Regions from separate parts of the Homo sapiens genome. Here region 1 is linked to region 2. Evidence: fine-mapped expression QTL. A gene starts in region 2. The other region holds a variant in brackets. All regions are shown on one strand. Distances are between the middles of the regions. Region 1 holds the start of S100A2 (S100 calcium binding protein A2). Region 2 holds the start of S100A4 (S100 calcium binding protein A4).

Region 1 (8,943 bases), 21 kb after region 2:
ACGGTGGCTCACGCCTGTAAGCCCAGCACTTTCAGAGGCCGAGGAGGGCAGATCACCTGAGGTCAGGAGTTCGAGACCAGCCTGACCAATATGATGAAACCCCGTCTCTACTAAAAATACAAAAATCACTTTGGGAAGCCGAGGCAGGTAGATCACGAGGTCAGGAGTTCGAGACCAGCCTGGCCAATATGGTGAAACCCTGTCTCTACTAAAAATACAAAAATTAGCTGGGCGTAGTGGGATGCGCCTGTAGTCCCAGCTACTCAGGAGGCTGAGACAGGAGAATTGCTTGACCCCTGGAGGCAGAGGTTGCAGTGAGCCGAGATCGTGCCATTGCACTCCAGCCTGGGCAACAAGAGGGAAACTCCATCTCAAAAAAAAAAAAAAGAAAAGAAAAGAGAGAGAGAGAACGTGCCAGTGCTGTGTGATCTTGGGACAATCACTTTTCCCTTCTGGGCTCTGGTTTCTCAAGTCTCCAATGACAGGATTAAACAGATGGACTCGGAAGGCCCTCACAGCACATGGTTCTCTGGAATGCTGCAGGAAACAGCCATTAATTAAGCACTCCCACTCGGGCCTCATTTCCACTCCAGTGGAGCCATGAAGCTAAAGTGGGGAGGGGGCTGGGCCCCACCCTGGCACCTGCATCGACAGGCACCCGGAACTGGGGGAGAGATTTAACCTGCACCCCCACACTCACACCAGGACCTCCCCCACAGGCCTGTGCCACTCACCCCCACAAAGCTGGGCAGCTCCTTGTGCAGAAGTTCCTTCATTTCCCCCTTACTCAGCTTGAACTTGTCGCCCTCTTGGCAGGAGTACTTGTGGAAGGTAGTGACCAGCACAGCCAGCGCCTGCTCCAGAGAACTGCACATCATGGATCTGTGGCTGCAGAGGTGCCAGGTGATGGGTACACTGCTGAGGCTCTTGGGGCCTTAGCTCAGCCTGTAGGATCCACTTCTGCCCTATGCCCCCAAGCCACCTCACAAAACCCCTCTCTGAATGGGAAGGCAGGGGCTGCATCTCCCCCTCAGACTGTGGTTCCCTGAGGCCGGAGGCGATACCTCCATCTCACCCTGAGGGCAGACGCTAAAGCTTCCCTTGTGTCTGGGAGTCACCAAGCCTCCTCTGATGGCACTTGGGACACCCCCCTGAGGGCAGGGCTCCCCATTTTAGTGTCTGCCAGAAGGGAAATGACAGGGTGACCAGAGTCCCATTTTGATGGCATCTGCGCAGGCTCTGGGGAGCAGGGCCACATGCACCGGCTGGCAGATGGGGGCTCCTGTGCAGTCTGGCAGGAGCCATGGCTACAGCCTAGGAGCAGGAAGCTCCCTGAAGGAGTCGTTTCCCTCCTTAGACTCGGGACTCCTGAAGCCAGAGGCATCTCTCTCTGCCATCTAACTGGAAGCTCCCTTGGGCAGGAGTGTTTCCTCTCTCAGACTAGGAGCTCCCAGAGGGTGGGGAATGTGTCTCCCCTCACCCTGAAGGCCCCTGAGCCTCTAGGCAGACAGGGGCATGGATAGGGTGGGGGCAACTTAACATTCTCTCCACCAGGAAGGATCCTGTTGGAATTAGAATTAAAGATATGAAATGTTCATTGCCTTGGGATCAGGATGGGACAGACCTCAGCGGCAAGGCCTCTGAGAATACTCAGACCAGCCTGGAAAGGTTAGGCAGGTTTCAGGGTGAGGCCAGAGGAGCTATGCCAGAGGCAGGGCATGCCCTGGGCCCATCATGCCAGCCCTGCCTTCACCGAGGCAGGGGGCAGAGCTTTGCTGCTTGGGGCCATGACCCAGGCAGAGTCTTGAGACCCCTGCCTCTTGCACCTTAGTCCTGCTAGAATCCAGGACTTTGCAAAAAAAAAAAAAAATCTCAGGATTCTTTTTGCAGCAACGCCCACATGCACACCTCCTGCTCCTAGGCCTAGACCCCCAAAGAAGGGCCCCTAGACTGAGATATCCAGGGGAGGGCCTCAGAGCAACCCCTGCACTGAGACCTCACAGAGGAACCTGGAGAAAAACCCTTCAGTCGGCCGGGCGCGGTGGCTTACTCCTGTAATCCCAGCACTTTGGGAGGCCGAGATGGGTGGATCACGAGATCAGGAGATCGAGACCATCCTGGCTAACATGGTGAAACCCCATCTCTACTAAAAATACAAAAAAATTAGCCGGGCATGGTGGTGGGCGCCTGCAGTCCCAGCTACTCGGGAGGCTGAGGCAGGAGAATGGCGTGAACCTGGGAGGGGGAGTTTGCAGTGAGCTGAGATCACACCACTGTACTCCAGCCTGGGCGACAGAGCGAGACTCCATCTCAAAAAAAAAAAAAAAAAAAAAAAACCCTTCAGTCAACACTTCAGCACTTCACAGAGAGTTCTTCCAAGGGGGAAGGCCCAGAGAGGCCCAGGTTGATCCCACCAGGGAAGCTGGAATGAGAGAACTGTGGAGACAAAGACAGAGACCCACGGGGATCCTCCCCACCCTGCCCTCAGCAGGACAGAGGTACTCACCAGACCAGGTGGCAGAGACAGACCCAGGAAGGAGAGCAAGGCAGCCAGGCTCCCAGGGTGAGGATTTATATGTGGGCCCCACTGGCCCCCAACTTGGCATTTTAAGGAAACCAAACCTGCCTCAACCTGATCCCACCAAACCCTGGCCTCTTGCCATTCCCACTCATTCCCTCCCAGCCCCCTCCCTCCCAGAGAGTGCCAGCTCCACCACCAGCTGGGGGAGGGCTCTAGGCCAGGTCAAGGGCAGCCCCTGAGCCCACCCAGGCCACAGTGGGAAGTGGGAGGTGTCGTGGGGACTGGGCATCCTGGACCGGGGTGAGGGGAGGCAACCCCTGCTCTGGGGCCTGGAGACTGGTGCCAGGCCTCATTCTCATGACATGCCTGTGAGTCACAGCCCACTCCTGTGTGAGAGGCTGTGAGCACACGCTGAGACTTCATGGTCCAGTGCTCGTGTACATACATGCGCCCGTGTGTGTGAGAGAGAAGCAACCTGGGGCCACCCTTAGGAAGCTGGGGGCCAGAGGAGGCAGCTGGGGGACATCAGGAGGAGAAGGACAGGACTGACTTCAGGGCATGGATGAAGTGGAGTGACTTTTAATGGCCAGCACCAGAATACCTCTTAATGAGGTAATGAGGTAACTAAGTGTGCTTAGAAATACCTGGGAAGGTCCCTCTGTGTAGGAAGGTGTCTGGAAGGATGGGGAAGCAGTGAGAAATGGGGTTGCTCTACACACAGCCGCAGTTGGGCTGGGCCACAGTCTGTGGGGAGCATAAGGAAGTCCCGAGTAGTTAAAGGCTGAACAGGAAAACTTTGGCCTCCTCTTCTCCAGCTTGAGGGCTGGGTGGGTGGGTAGGGGTACATCCCTACCCAAGGCTGAAAACACCAGCTGGACAGCTTCCCAAGCCAGAATCCAGGCCTGAAGCACAGCCCTCAGCCACAGCCCTCTCTCACTGCCCCCCACACACATGTCCTCCCCAGACCCGGAGAAAGGCAAACACTGTGGCCATTCAGAGCCCAGCCCAAGGGAGGGCTGCCCCCTCCCAGGGCCCCTTCCTCCTTGGCCCTTTGTCTATCCCGGCCCGTCTGGGCATCAGGGCAC[C/T]GCCCTTCCTGTGGCCCCAGCTCCCCTCCCTGCTCCAGCTGTCGAGTAGCTTCTTCCCCTCCCCCAGCCCCTCTACCTCAGCCCTAAGTGACTCACCCGAGGTTCCAGGCCCAGATGCCCAGGCAGTGACTCAGCGGCACACCCTCCTCCCCCAGGGCCAGGGCAGCAGCAGTCCCAGAGCAGTAGGTGGAAGCCCCAGCCCAGCCTGGCAGGGAAAGCACTGGCACAGAGACCCCAAACAGGCCCTGCCAGGAGGAGCTTTGGATAATGACATGGCAGGAGGATCAGACTGAGAACAGGCTGGTCCCTTCCTAGCGGTCACCGTGTGACTTGGGGGCCAGCCTGAGCAGTGTACATGAAGTCAGGCCTTGGGGCCCCCAGTGTCCTCTTCTACACCTTGGCACAGCCACCGAGTGTCCCTTGCTCCCCTCAGTACTTGAACCCCTCATGCTACTTGTCTTCCCATCGAGGCCTACTTCAAGTAGAACTCGGAATAAAAACCCTTCACACTGAGGGTGAGGGACAAGGGAGCGCAATGCATCGATTTTCACAGCCATTCTTTCCTTTTAACTAAGGGCCTCCACAGGGCCTTCCCTGCTCAGAAACTGCAGTGCATCCCCATGGCTGTCCCTTAAAGCCAGGCGGTATGTTCTCACTCATAAGTGGGAGTTGAACAATGAGAACATATGGACACAGGGAAGGGAACACCACATACCAGGGCCTGTGGGCAGTTGCGGGGAGAAGGATGGGGGCAAGGGGAGGGAGAGCATTAGGACTAATACCTGATGCATGCGGGGCTTAAAACCTAGATGATGGGTTGATAGGTGCAGCAAACCACCATGGCACATGTATACCTATGTAACAAACCACATTCTGCACATGTATGCCAGAACTTAAAGTAAAAATAAAATAAAATTAAATTAAAATTAAAAATTTTTAAAAAGCCTGGCAGTGAGGCGCTCCAGACTCGGCCTGCTGCTGCGTGTCCCTTAAACACACCGGCACATGCAACTAGTGTGGCCAAGACCCTCGGCTTGCGCTGACCCCTCTGTTCAGAACGTGCCCACACATGCCCATGCCCTCTATCCTGCTGAAATCCAACCCCCCCTTCAAAGGCCACTGCAGGGAGCCTTCCCAGGGCCCAACCGGATTCAGTGTCTACCTGTTCTGTCCTGTACAAAGCGCCCCTTTTGCCCTTTTCGTGTGTACTTAGAGAATTCTGATTTTGACTGAATCACCTGTGTACTTGTTTTCTCTCAGCCTCACCCCCACATGGTGAGCTCACCGGTCTTACTCATTTCTGCATGAGGTAAGGGTCTCGCCCACACCAGGTGCCAACCAGTGCTTACGGCTACCACATGGCAACAGGGGTCACTGGAGGAGTGCTTAGGAGCAAGGGAGTCCTTCTCACCCCGTGAAATCACACCACTGACTATGCTACGAAATAATCACCTCTCCTCTGGATCCCAAGAGTGGAACCGAGACAACGGGTCGGAAAAGAGCTTCAGAGAGCTACAAATCCCTGAGGAGTGACAGCAGGAAACTGCGGCTCCCAGGACCCAGTGAGGGAGTTGAGCAAACCCCCCAGCGGGCAGAGACGGAGACAGGCAGGCAGACGAAGAAGACAAAGAGTCAGTCAGATGGAAAAGCCAGGGAGAAAAACAGAGACAGCAGCAGAGCCGCGGGTCACTAGGGTCAGCTCCTGAAGGCCTGTCCTTAATCAGGTGTCTCTGTCTCAGGAACTGAGGCTGCGACTGCGCCCATCAAATGGCCATATACCTGAGACTGGTGATAATCGTATTCATTTGCCACTAACTTGCTGCGTAACCTTGGGCAACTCCCTCCCCCACGGCAGGGCAGGAGAGTTGTACGGAATGGCCCCTAGAGTCCGATCCCAATCCCACTCTCACATTCTCCAGCTGTCTACAAAGGCAGAGTAGTCAAGACACAAGCAGGCCCTGCGGACATCCAAAGCAGTGACTCTGCCCCGGCCCAGCCTCAGGAAGCTGGGTCCTCACATTCCGTCCACCCCATCTCCGGGCTCCAGGTGCCAGAAATTTTCCACCAGCGGCCCCGCGGGATTTTGCCCAGCTGCTTCGTGCCCTCTGGTGGCTAAGGCGTGTCATTGCAGTGCCGGCCTCCTGTCATCCTCCCTTTCTTGTCCGCCAGACCCTCTGGCGCCCTGCTTACGACTCAAACAGGAGACAGTGCTGATTCATTTCCAAGCGGCCTTCCTACACCCACACCTGCTTCACATAGATGAGGTTTCCCGGACAGTCCCTGCCCAGAAGCCCAGGTGGATGTCTGAGACGGCAGCCAGATACCTGGAAGCCATTTTAAAAGCCTAGGGATATGGGTACTCGGGAGATAGGAGGCGGAAAGACCACTTGAGCCTAGGAGTTTGAGGCTGCAGTGAGCCATGATCGTGCCACTGCACTCCAGCCTGGACGACAGAGCAAGACCCTGTCTCAATCAATCAATCAATGCAAGCCTAGAGATAAGGGCAGGAGAAAACCAGGGGACAGAAGTGAGGGATTGGCCACTGCCAAGTTCTGCCCACCCACCCCCTTTCCCCAGGCCGTTCAGGGGAAAGAGAAATGGCCTCATTGTGGGGGCCACAGGTTTAGTTTAAGTCCTGACATTGCCTCTGGCTTACTGTGTGACTGTCGACCTTGGTTGAGTGGTGCCACGAACCTGAGCTTAAACGTTTTCAGCAGAAGGACCCCCTTTATTATGCCCCGCCCCACAAAATAAGTTCTGAGGTATTCTGTCTTAGCAAAATGCATTAAATAATTTATTTCCCCTGTTGTACTAATTGGATCCATAAGTGTCTCCCGGCAGCATGACCAGCATGCGAGGACCCACGTTATCACATTGGGTTCAGGTCATCCTGGATTTGTCACTCACAATGGGCGTGTGCATATCCTTTGCTGGGGGGTGCAGACTGAAATTTTGAAGCACTCGCTGTGCGTCAGGTGCTCTCCGTACATTACCCCATTTAATTCACACAACAATCCCAGGAGTTGGAATAAGATGACCCCACTTCACAGAGGAGAACACTGAGACTCAAAGTCTGCCAAATTCACACAATTAGTAAGGGGTGGGGAGGCATGACGAACACAGGTGGTCACAACGTTAAACCTTTCCTAGAAGCTCCAATTATTCCCCGATAACCCTGAGAGCCCTAACATTTCATTTCCATTCAGACCAGCCTCAGTCTCTCTGCCCATCCTCTCTCCACCCCACACTCAGCCTATCTGTCTCATTTCTCAACCTCAGCAGGCGCCAGAAGCCCATCTTCTCCCCATCTCTGATTCTGGCATCTTTTCCTCTTGCCTTCAAATGCCCTGTGGACTGGATTCTTTTTAATTTTTGTTTACTTACTTATTTGAGACATAGACTCACTGTCGCCAAGGCTGGAGTACAGTGGCACCATCACAGCTCACTGCAGCCTCATGTGATCCTCCCACATTAACCTCCTCAGTAACTGGGGCTATAGGTGTGCGCCACTGTGCGCATCTTTTTGCATCTTTTGTGGTGATGGAGTTTTGCCATCTTGCCCAGACGGGTCTTGAACTCTTGAGCTCAAGCAATCCTCCTGCCTCGGCCTCCCAAAGTGCTGGGATACCAACGTGAGCCACCATGCCCAGCCTAGCCCGGATTAAATATAAATATAAAAGAGACTGGGCATGGTGGCTCACACCTGTAATCCCAGCATTTTGGGAGGCTGAGGCAGGCAGATCACCTGAAGCCAAGAGTTCAAGACCAGCCTGCCTAACATGGCAAAACCCCATCTCTACTAAAAATACAAAAATTAGTTGCGTGTGGTGGCGTGCACCTGTAATCCCACCTACTCAGGAGGCTGAAGCACGAGAATCGCTTGAACCCGGGAGGTGGAGGTTGCAGTGAGCTGAGTGACAGAGTGAGACCCTGTCTCAAAAAAATAATAATACAATCAAATAAGCTTAAAAGAACCATTTCTCATTGTCCCACCTCCTCTTGGCTTCCCCTTTGCCACACATAACAACACCATCCACCCAATCACCCAAACCAGAAATGTGGCTGTCCTCCTGTCCTCTAGCCTCCTGCTTCCCCCGCTCTGCCCTCCAGATGTTGGCCAGTCAACCTATTGTTTCCACCTTCTAAATACCACCCAGCTTTGTCCACACTGCCTTAGGTCCCTCAGCATCATCTTGCTCCTGGACTACTGCAAACACATCCCAACTCCCCTCCCACCTCCATCCTCGCCCCCCAACTCTAACCCCTTCTCAGCTCTCCCACCAGAATAACCTTTCTAAAATTCAAATCTGAGCATGTCAGCCCAGATTCAAATGCTTAGTGAACCCCCATAACTTTCAGAAGAGATGGCATGCCTTTGCTGGCACAGCAACTACACTGATGTGCATGCCGCGCCCTTCTGTGCTTCCAAGCACCTGCCTATGCCTCACATTCTCTTGAAAAGCCTTTCCTCAGGAGGTCCACCTGTCAATCCTAATCACCCTTTAAACTCAGCTCAAAGGTCATTGCCTCCATGCAGCATCCCGGTATCTACTTCCCAGCCTCGCACCTGCTAGAGCAGAAGAATATGCACACACACATGCACACACACAGCTAGTGTTCCTCCTGCAGCCCCTTGCCCATCGCTCTATCCCTTTTTTTCTTTTTTCTTTTTTTTTTTTTTTTTTTTTTTTTTTGAGACAGAGTCTTGCTCTGTCACCCAGGCTGGAGTGCAGTGTCGTGATCTCGGCTCACTGCAACCTCCGCCTCCCGGGTTCAAGTGATTCTCCTGCCTCAGCCTCCCGAGTAGCTAGGATTACAGGCAGGCACCACCACGCCCAGCTAATTTTGTATTTTTAGTAGAGGTGGGGTTTCTCCATGTTGGTCAGGCTGGTCTCGAACTCCCGAACCTCAGGTGATCCGCCCACCTCGGCCTCCCAAAGTCCTGGGATTACAGGCGTGAGCCACCACACCCAGCCCCCATTATTTCTTATGTTTAATTGTGACTATATATGTGTCCCTCCCACTAGACTGGGCTCCTAAGAAACAGGCACTGAGTATTGTCAATGCTCCATATCCCCAGTGCCTGACACAGAGGCACAAGTGCTGTCCGTCGTAACCACCATCCTCTCTCCTCCCTTCAACACCACTTTTCCAGATATGCTCTAAATCCTCCACCTCCACCCCCAGAACCTCCTGAAAACTGACTTGCTACCATTCTACGGAACCAGCTTTCTCCTACGTCACCAGAAACTCTTCTTGCCAATGCCAGTGTTTTGGGGAGGAAGCAATCTAACACCCTACTCTCAAAAGAGTTCTTCAGCAGGGAGGAGCCACCCA
Region 2 (8,943 bases):
CGTGTCCTAGGAAGCTCTCCACATCGGGCCCCTCCCACCCATCCTGCCACCCACTCCAGGAGTAGAGAAGACAGCCCTTGAGATGGGGATCAGTGGAGGAAGATATTTTCTGCGAAGGATATGGTCAAGGTCATGAGCTAATATGGGCCCAGAGGTTTTTAAAGGGCTTTTAAATGAACGATTTCTTCTAGGCCTCACTGCTCTTCACAGGAAAGGCTCGTCGGAGACTCTTGGCATGGAGGACTGAGAATCAGGAATAGGGAAGGTGTCCAGCGAAGGGCTAAGGCCCAGCACTGGGGTAGAGGTTGTGGATTGGGGAGGGGGGTTCAGGTTCAGGCTGCAGTCAAGGAGGAAGTAGGGGCCAGGGAGAGTTTCCTGTATCCCAGGAGACACTCAGACATCGTTCTACCACAGTAGAACAACATACTTCTACCACCAGTCCAAGAACAGACCTGGGCTCAGGGTGTAGTACCTATCACTGCTGCAGTCCCACCCCAGCCTGGGGGGCCTCCCCACTGCTCCCCACTCCACCCCACCCCCAGCTGGCAAGATTGGAGAGGCAGCAGGGATTGGTTGCTATGCAGTAGGCATCTCTGAAGGAGAGCGTGACCTGGGTGGAGGCCCCAGGGAGGGCGCTCCCAGGGAGGGTGGATGGAGAGGGCAGCGGAAGGCAGCAGACTTTCTCCTGAACTGAAATTCCTCCCAAGTCTCTGTATTCAAACCCTGCGGGAACATCTGAGTCACCTGCCCCACTCCTCTGAAACCTGAGAGAAAAGCCCCATGTGATGAGAGGAAAGAGGACCCTCAAGAGGAGGTCAGTGGGACAAAGCCCTCCAGCCTCTGCACCTGACCTCCATGCACCTCTTCCTAAAAGATCCCTGAGTCACCCAGACATGGCCTTGAAGTCTAACCTCAACCCACCACTGCACCCTGGAGCCACTGGCCTTGAACCTACCTAAGGGGAAGCAATATCATGCCTTATATTTTCTGGGGGGAAAATAATCTCAATTTCATTTGTCAGATCATATATGTGGAATTTTGTCTCCAAAACTATGGTCACCTTCCCACCATTTGCCTCACTCCCACTCCAGCCACTGACCCCCACTCATCTCTTCTGAGGTCCCCTGTCCTTCTCTGAAGGAGCTTGATTCCTGACTGATAACAGATCTCATCCAGGGACCTTTATGGCAGAGACGGTGGATTCGAGAATGCCTATATTCTCATGCTGCTGCAAACAGCGGGTCTCCCTCCACATTGCCCTCCCTGATCCTACCACGCACAGGAAAGGATTAATCCATCCCTGTGGTTTGAAGCCAATGATCTGGAAGTGGGTGGCAGGACAGGGCCTGGACTGTCAACGTCAGCACTGAGTGCCAGCCCTCCTCCCCATCCCACTCTCGCCTAAATACTTCCTCCCTGCAACTCAGCCTTATTCTTTTCCCTCCGACTTACTCCCAGGACACCCAAACTCCATTCCAGACCCCAACCAGGAACAGATATGACCTTCAATTCCAGCCTCGGTTCAAGATCCTGCCAGAGGCAAGGTTGGAGAGAGGTGGGAGGGGTAAGTGGGCTGGCTGAGATCCCACAGCTGGGACCTTCCAAACCTTGGCAGGGGGGTGGTGAGGGGTCCCCTTCTCGGCTTTGACCACACCGAGTGAACTCTATTGCCTGTGCACACACACTGTTAGTCACCCTGCATCCCTCCCCTAACTTCACTGGTCTGCTGTCCATAAAACTTCAGCTCAACTCCCAGCTCTCCCCACCACCACCCCACAACATATCCCTCAGTCCCCAACCCACGCCCCCAGAGTCTCTCAAACCATCAGCCTCAAAACTTCCAAGAATCTTTATTGAACTTGCTCAGCATCAAGCACGTGTCTGAAGGAGCCAGGGTGGAAAAAAAAAAGTGCCCACTGGCGACAGGGAGGGCCCCAGCTGGCAGACCCCCCAACCACATCAGAGGAGTTTTCATTTCTTCCTGGGCTGCTTATCTGGGAAGCCTTCAAAGAATTCGTTACACATCATGGCGATGCAGGACAGGAAGACACAGTACTCTTGGAAGTCCACCTCGTTGTCCCTGTTGCTGTCCAAGTTGCTCATCAGCTTCTGGAAAGCAGCTTCATCTGTCCTTTTCTGGAGGGAGAAGAGGCTACAGATAGAAAACAGAAGCCCAGTGGGTGGAGCCAGGACCAGACCCAGTTTCTACTCCCAGACCAGAGTTCAGGGAGGCTCCTTTGGGAGGTCCAGTTTGGAACTCCAACCCTCAAGGCTAAGCTAGGGTGGAGAAGGTGCTCCTTGGATAAGGAAGTCTGAGTACCTGGTGCAATGGAAAAATGACGGGACCACTACATTTTCACCCAAGGTTGTTCTAATAATCCCATGAGGTAGTAATAGTCATGAAAACAATATATAAACTGTGTTATGTTTGATACAAATATACATTGTTATTGTTTGAAGGGAACGTCTGCAGGCCTGTGATCATCTCCACATCTGTGTCTTCACATCTACAAGCCAAATAGAAACTCAAACAGTGTCCACTGTTGGAGTGATGGCAAGAGTCAGACAGTCCCGGTCCGGATGGCAGTTGTGTACACTGACCACCTTGGGAAGTTACTTAGCACTCTGAGCTTAGTCTTCCCTTCAGTTAAGTTGTGCAAAGCACCTGGCAGTGTCTGACCCATTCATTCTCAGCCCTCTTTCAGCATGGGGCCAGGCAGTGAGTGGTGGTGTTCAATGTGTTTCCACCCCAGGCAGCCACCCCACTGATAGATGCCCTCTGTAGCTAATGCTCTAGAGCAAGACTGCTGCCCTCCTCTGTGGGAAATGCCCCACGTGGGGACTCACTCAGGCACTACCCACTCACCCCCAAGAAGCTGGGCAGCTCCCGGGTCAGCAGCTCCTTTAGTTCTGACTTGTTGAGCTTGAACTTGTCACCCTCTTTGCCCGAGTACTTGTGGAAGGTGGACACCATCACATCCAGGGCCTTCTCCAGAGGGCACGCCATGACAGCAGTCAGGATCTGGGAGCAGGAGGCACAGAGACCGTCTTATTAATCCCACCCCTCAGAGATGTGTTCAGAATGCCAGGCTCCACTCCCATCCCTCCAGGAGCACTTGGCGAGACTCTGCTCCCTCCCTGGGGGAGCCCAGAGCAGTGGGCCCCCGCACCTGGCTGGGAGGGTGTGCACAGTGGGGAACACATGCTCTGGGCAGTGAACATTTGCAAGATCCGCTGCGCAAGCTCTGGAGATTCGGGCAGCAAACTCCCAGGGCCTCCCAGGCCTTGCCTCAACAACAGCATTTTTTCCACCCCTCACTCAGTCTATCCACTCCCACAGCTCAGCCACAAAGGCCCCGCCCTTGCCATTCTTTTCCCTCCCAGAACTGGGTGTGGCTGCTGGAGGCCTGCCCAGGGGCCTGCAGTGGAAAAAACCAGCACAGCCGCTTAGCTCTCAGCATGGGGAGGGGCAAAGTGAGGTGGCAGAGGCAAGGGTTGGAAGAGAAGCTGCAGAGGCCATGCACCTTCTCGAGCTGGGCTGCTGCGTGCAGGGCAGAGGCTCATGGGGCACACCACCAGACAAAGGCCCACAGTTGCCTTCTGCCTTTCCTTTGCTTCCTGCTCCCGAGTGCGCAACCCAGCAAACATGAGCCAGTGCAGATACCCACAGGCACATACATACCAACACGTACTATAGCAACAGCGTGTGCAAGCCCACATCTCAGAAGCACCTGGAGAGCTCAAATTCAGTCACTTGCTCACTTTTCTGTTTGTTTTTTCCTCCGTCTTACGTGCATGTGTGTGTGTGCCATGCACACCCACGCACACAATCCACCCAGAGTTCCACATCAGAATCTCACATCTGGATCTCTTTAGCACATCTGGCCCCCACCAGCCTCCCCTTCTCCTTCCCCAGCCCTGGCCTCTGACACCCCTTGCATGCCAGTCAGGCCAACACAACTCACCAAACCAAGAAAGAAGAAGCGCTGAGGAGAGAGGGTTGTAGAGAGGGGAAGAATGGGGACGGCCCAGAGGTCTGACCTATTTATACCCCAGCCAGGCCCTGCCCATAGCAGGGGACAGGGGAGAGCGGATACTGCCTTCCTGCTGTGGGCTGATGCGGTAAGTGCCACAGCACCCTCCACCAGCCCAGCCGTGGAACCAAGCCTCCTGTTCCCAGGTGGGCACCCGTGGGTAACGGGTAAGCCCTAGCGGTTACTAGCAGGGGACTGGATGAGATGGGCACCACCCAGTGTACATAGCTCAGCCTGAGTTTTAGAGAGGTGGAGGAAGGGGCAGCCTGTGCCTGGAGCATGGGGGACAGGGAGTAGTCCCATGGGGACCTAGGAAAGGAGATGCAGGGGGTGGTGGGTGACAGGTGGGAGATTGCCCTGGAAATGTGGTGACACAAAAGCTAGGGGGGAGATGGGAGGATCGCCTGAGGCCAGGAGTTCAAGACCAGCCTAGGCAACATAGAGAGACTTCTGTCTCTATAAAAAGGAAAAACAATTTTTTTTTTTAATTAGCTGGGCAGCATGGCTGTAGCCTGTAGTCCCAGCTAGTCAGGAAGCTGAGACAGGAGGATCATTTGAGCCCAGGAGTTCGAGACTGCAGTTGGCTATGCTCAAGCCACTGCTCTCCAGCCTGAGCAACACAGAGGACCTTGTCTCTTAAAAAAATAAAGATTCAGAAACAAAAACTGGGGTGGGGATCCCCATGCCCGGTACTGTCTGCCATGCCAAGTAAGGCTCAGGGTCGGGGCGGGGGGATCTGGAGGGGAACAGGCTCACACCCAAAGGAGGCTCTGGGACCACCTCAGGAACGTCAGTGGGAAAGGTCCTGGGTGAGGTAGTGATGGAGTGGAGTGGCAGTGAGGCGTGGGGGCTCACGGATAGATCTCAGGTTCGGAGAGGGTATCAGGAGGGGCCATTTAAAGTTGGGATGAGTGTCAGGAATGAAGAATCCAGGTTGGGGTGGAGAGTTAGAGGTGAAATGGCATGAAATAGGGGAGTTATAATTCGGGTCAACCTCTCAGGGTGGGCTACAAACCCAGTGAGGGTTAGAAGTAGGGGGTTAAGGCCCTCAGGGGGCTGCGGCTTCAGGGATAGGGGCTAGCTCAAGTTATTCCCTTACCCCTCCATACAGAGCACCCCTTCCTGGCTGGGAGAAACACCTCAGACACCCTAATCCCATTAGTGCTGCTCTCTGGGCTCCCACAGCCCGAGGCAGGGAACAAACACCCCCACTGCACCCACGGCCCCACCCTCCTCCAACCATGAGCACTGAGTCCCAGGGGAAACTCAGGCAGTCCTCTCTCAAAGATCCCAAAGAAAGAGAGAGAGGAAGGGAGGACAGGGGTCCTTGTTTTGTCCCCACGCCCTCCTGCTGGACCCTGGAGGCCACTGCATTTCTGCAGGGTCTGCAACTTCCCTCAGGGAGCACCCTGCCCCTGCCCTCAGCTGCCTTCCCGCAGTGGAAAAGGCCAGAGAGGAGCAAAGAGCTCAGGAGACGCGTCCTCAGAGAAGAACCAAACAAAACCAAGCTGATGCCAGTTTTTTATTAGGAGTTAAATAGGCCCTTTCCCATCGTGGTCTCATTGGTGCACGCTCTGCTGAGCCTCGAGGGCCTCAGAGCAGATCCCGCCTCCTCCCATCCACAAGGGAGGCCACAGGGGTGCGGCAGGCAGGCTGGGCCCCAGAGTGGCTCTACCCCTCATTCGCTGGGCATCCTGAGGAAGGAGCCCTCACATCTCTGGGCCTCCTAGGTAAAATGGGTTAACTGATCGCAGAAGACCTGGGCAAGTCCAGATTGAAAGGGGTACAGGAGAGAGGGTAGGAGGGGGTGTGGGAGACATGCCCAGCCCCCGACAGCCAGCGCACCCCCTGGAGCAGAGGCTACTGGGAGCAGGGGGGCTCTGAGGGGCAGTCCTTGAAGTACTCGTGGCAGTAGAGACAGAGGCAGGCAAGTGAGCGCACATACTCCACAAAGTCCACCTCGCAGTCCTTGTTGGTGTCCAGAACACTCATGAATTTGTTGTAGTCACATTCCCGAAACTCAGTCTGTGCAAGGGAAGGGTTGGGAGAGGTAAGGGAGTAGGATGAGGAGGGCAGAACAGCCTCACACGCCACCTCCCTCCTTCCTCTCCCAAGTGGACCCACCCCACCCCAAACTACACCCTTCTGAGGGCCGACTTCAACCTCCCTGCTCTGATAATGCACTCGTTGCAATCCCCTCCCAAATCTGTCCTCTCAGATTATTAATCGAGCACCTACTATTTGCTACTGAGTGCCTACCAAGTGTTAGGCATTCTTCATGGTGCTCTCACTCAGTCCTCTCAACAGCTCTGCAAGGCAGCAGGGATGATTGTCATCCCATTTTACAGATGAGGAAGCTGAGGTTTCTGCTGTGTCAGTTCTCCCCCTCCCACTCCCTCCTCACAATCCAGCCCCCTCCCTTGCTGTCCTGTGCTCATGCTTGTTGTCCCCAGGTCTCTCTTTGCAGAGTCTAGGCAGTGCCTCCCCCCGGAGGAGGAGGGGACGGACACTCTGACTGCTCACCGGGGTCCAGGTGGCCAGCTCCTTCTGCAGCAGCTCCTTGAGCTCCGCCTGGCAGAGCTTGTATTTGTCCCCACAGCGCCCTGCGTATTCCTGGAAGGTGCACACGATGGCAGCTACCGCCTGCTCCAGAGGCCTGGCCATCCTCACTGTCACAGAACAAGGGTGTGGCTCACAGCAGAGTTCCAGGCCAGCCCCCCAGCTCACCTCTGCCCTCTGTGTTTCTCAGAGACTGTTCCCAGACCCATCTTAACCTCCATCAGGCTTCAGGCCCCGCAGTCTCCCCCTCCTCTGAGTAGCCCTCCCAGACCACACCAGCCCCTCCTAATTTATCCCCCTGCTGTCCTGTTGTTATTTCCCCATGTAGAGGTCTCATTGCCCCAACATCGCTGTAAACTCCTCAGAGAGACAGCATCCTACCCCACCACCCACACACCCCACCGTGGGGCTCCTTAAGCACTCTCAGATTATCTGCCACCTCTTCTTATCCCCAACACCCAGGGATGGCTCGGTCCCAGTCTGCCCCAGCCCATGAGATGCCCTAGAAGCCTCCCTCCCTGCAGGAACTTGCACAAGGAGAGCCTGGCCCTGTGCTTCTCTGCCCTCAGCCCTTGGAGAAGCTAGGCCTTAGCAGGGAGGGGCAGGTCTGAGAGGCGCCCCCACAGCCTCACCACCACTGCCCTCACCCTGCCTCCTGCCCTGAACTCGAGGAAGCTGCACCCAGAAGAAAAACTTGTGGGATCCTCTCTGCCTGTCGCCAGCTGTGCAACCTTGGTGAGCCATTTGTCTCTCTGGGTCTCAGGGGCGGGGCCTGATCTGTAAGTTGGGGTTCATCTCACCTCGCTGGCCCAGTCAGGAACCTGAACCAGATGGTCTCTTGAGAGTTGACCAGTTCGGGTGTTTACCAATCTGAGACTGGCCTCCCCTGAGGTTACCCTCCCGACCCCTGGGGGTTTTGAGCAGGGAGGTTCTGTATAGGGATACTCTGTTCTATTGGAGGGGAAGCCCTTCCTGGAATTGCTCACCTCCCCCCACTTCCACTGTCCCCTTCCACCGCCCTTCTGGGATGATGCCTCCAGCCTGGGAAAACCCGAAGGCAGCCAGGAAGGCAAGAGTTTTTTCCATGCTAGCCCAGTGACTCACTCCTGATTCCCCCACGGGACAAGAGTCCTGCAGCACAGGGCGGCCAGGGCCAAGACTCTCCCTGAAGATTTGCCCACTGCTGGGCCCCCTGCTGGGAGCAAATGGCTGGCATGGTTGTGGCTGGCAGGAAAGTAGGGGAAGGGGAGTGGGGAGTGCCAAGCACTGCCAGGATTTAATTCATTGTAAACACCCCAGGATTAGAGCAAGGTGTCCAGGTTCCCAGGAGAGGAAAGGGCCATGATCCTCAGAAATGAGGAGACTCAGAGGTGAAGCAAGGAGGCAAGGAGCAGGTGAGGGGCCTGATCAAGGGGAAGACCAGAGCCTTGAGCCCAGTGCTCCCACCCCAAGGCAGACCTTAGCTCTACACACCTCCCTGCCCAAACTTCCCCAACAGCCCCTCACTGTGTAAGGAAACCTCTGCGTCCACTATATCTGACTTCCCTCCCCGTGTCAGGCCCGCCTGTGGTCATCTCTCTGCTTCCAATGCCAGACCCTGGGTCAGGAGTCAGGCTGGCTACTGGGGGTCCCCAAACTGCCCTGACACTCAACCCAGGGCAGGACCCAAGCAGCTGGCACTCACCACTGGTGCTGGCGTTTCAGCTGTAGGAGCTTAGAGACAGGGCGTCACTATTTGTAGCCTCCCAAGAAAGGAAGGAAGCAATTATGGGGGACACAAGTAGGTCAACACTGAGGATGCCCTCAGGGATCCCTCAGCAGACCCATTACAGGCCCCACCTGCCCACCTATCCACGCACACATCAAAGGCCAGTCTGGGCTCAGACACCACTCCCCTTTCATTCCCCATCTGCCCTCCCCCAGAGTTGGGAACAGGGGACAGTCTCCTGCCAAGTCCTTCCAGCTCAGTTGGAGGAGACAGTCTGGCTTATCCATCACATCACAGCCCCATCTCTTCACTCTGCAGAGGCCCCCAGAATACCAAGTGGGGACACACTTCTGCCTCGCTCAGGTTGCACCCCTACAAATCTCTATTCCGGGTAGAACTTGGAGAGCACGTGGCTAAGCCTCCCCTTTACAGACGAGAAGTCTGAACTTGCCTGACCAGATCCCAGCTTTTGGCTGTGAACTGCTTGCTTCCCAGGGGGGAAATCATCAGGTGGGATGTCTTTGAGGCACAGGAAGGAGGTGTGTTCCTCCCAGGGGCACTTCCAGAGTCTAAGCTTGAGATTTCTGGCCCTTCCACCCCAGGTGATGGGAATGAATTTGGGCTAGAGTCACATGAAGGCTG

The links. PIP is the estimated chance that this variant, and not a neighbour inherited with it, causes the effect.
Region 1: its variant is fine-mapped to the expression of S100A4 in whole blood (TOPMed, PIP above 0.99).

The regions. Positions count from the first base shown.
Region 1 is chr1:153,563,000-153,571,942 of GRCh38, forward strand. It overlaps S100A2 (S100 calcium binding protein A2), which reads right to left and starts at 2,845. Exons shown (of 3, transcript NM_005978.4): 1 at 2,507-2,845; 2 at 735-888. The coding sequence starts at 878. RefSeq lists enhancers at 1,202-1,959, 1,960-2,717, 2,837-2,896, 2,870-4,069, 3,767-4,006 and 1 more. The variant C/T (reference allele first, on the strand shown) is at 3,607.
Region 2 is chr1:153,541,788-153,550,730 of GRCh38, forward strand. S100A4 (S100 calcium binding protein A4) reads right to left here and starts at 4,019. Exons shown (of 3, transcript NM_002961.3): 1 at 3,966-4,019; 2 at 2,867-3,022; 3 at 1,834-2,136. The coding sequence starts at 3,007. The coding sequence ends at 1,972. It overlaps S100A3 (S100 calcium binding protein A3), which reads right to left and starts at 7,471. Exons shown (of 3, transcript NM_002960.2): 1 at 7,394-7,471; 2 at 6,558-6,703; 3 at 5,542-6,059. The coding sequence starts at 6,698. The coding sequence ends at 5,895. LOC101928034 (a long non-coding RNA gene) reads left to right here and starts at 3,955. Exons shown (of 3, transcript NR_125947.1): 1 at 3,955-4,122; 2 at 6,634-7,328. It also overlaps a transcript of S100A5 not described here. RefSeq lists enhancers at 2,928-3,508, 3,509-4,089, 3,900-3,949, 4,100-4,289, 6,998-7,559 and 1 more and a silencer at 7,526-7,820.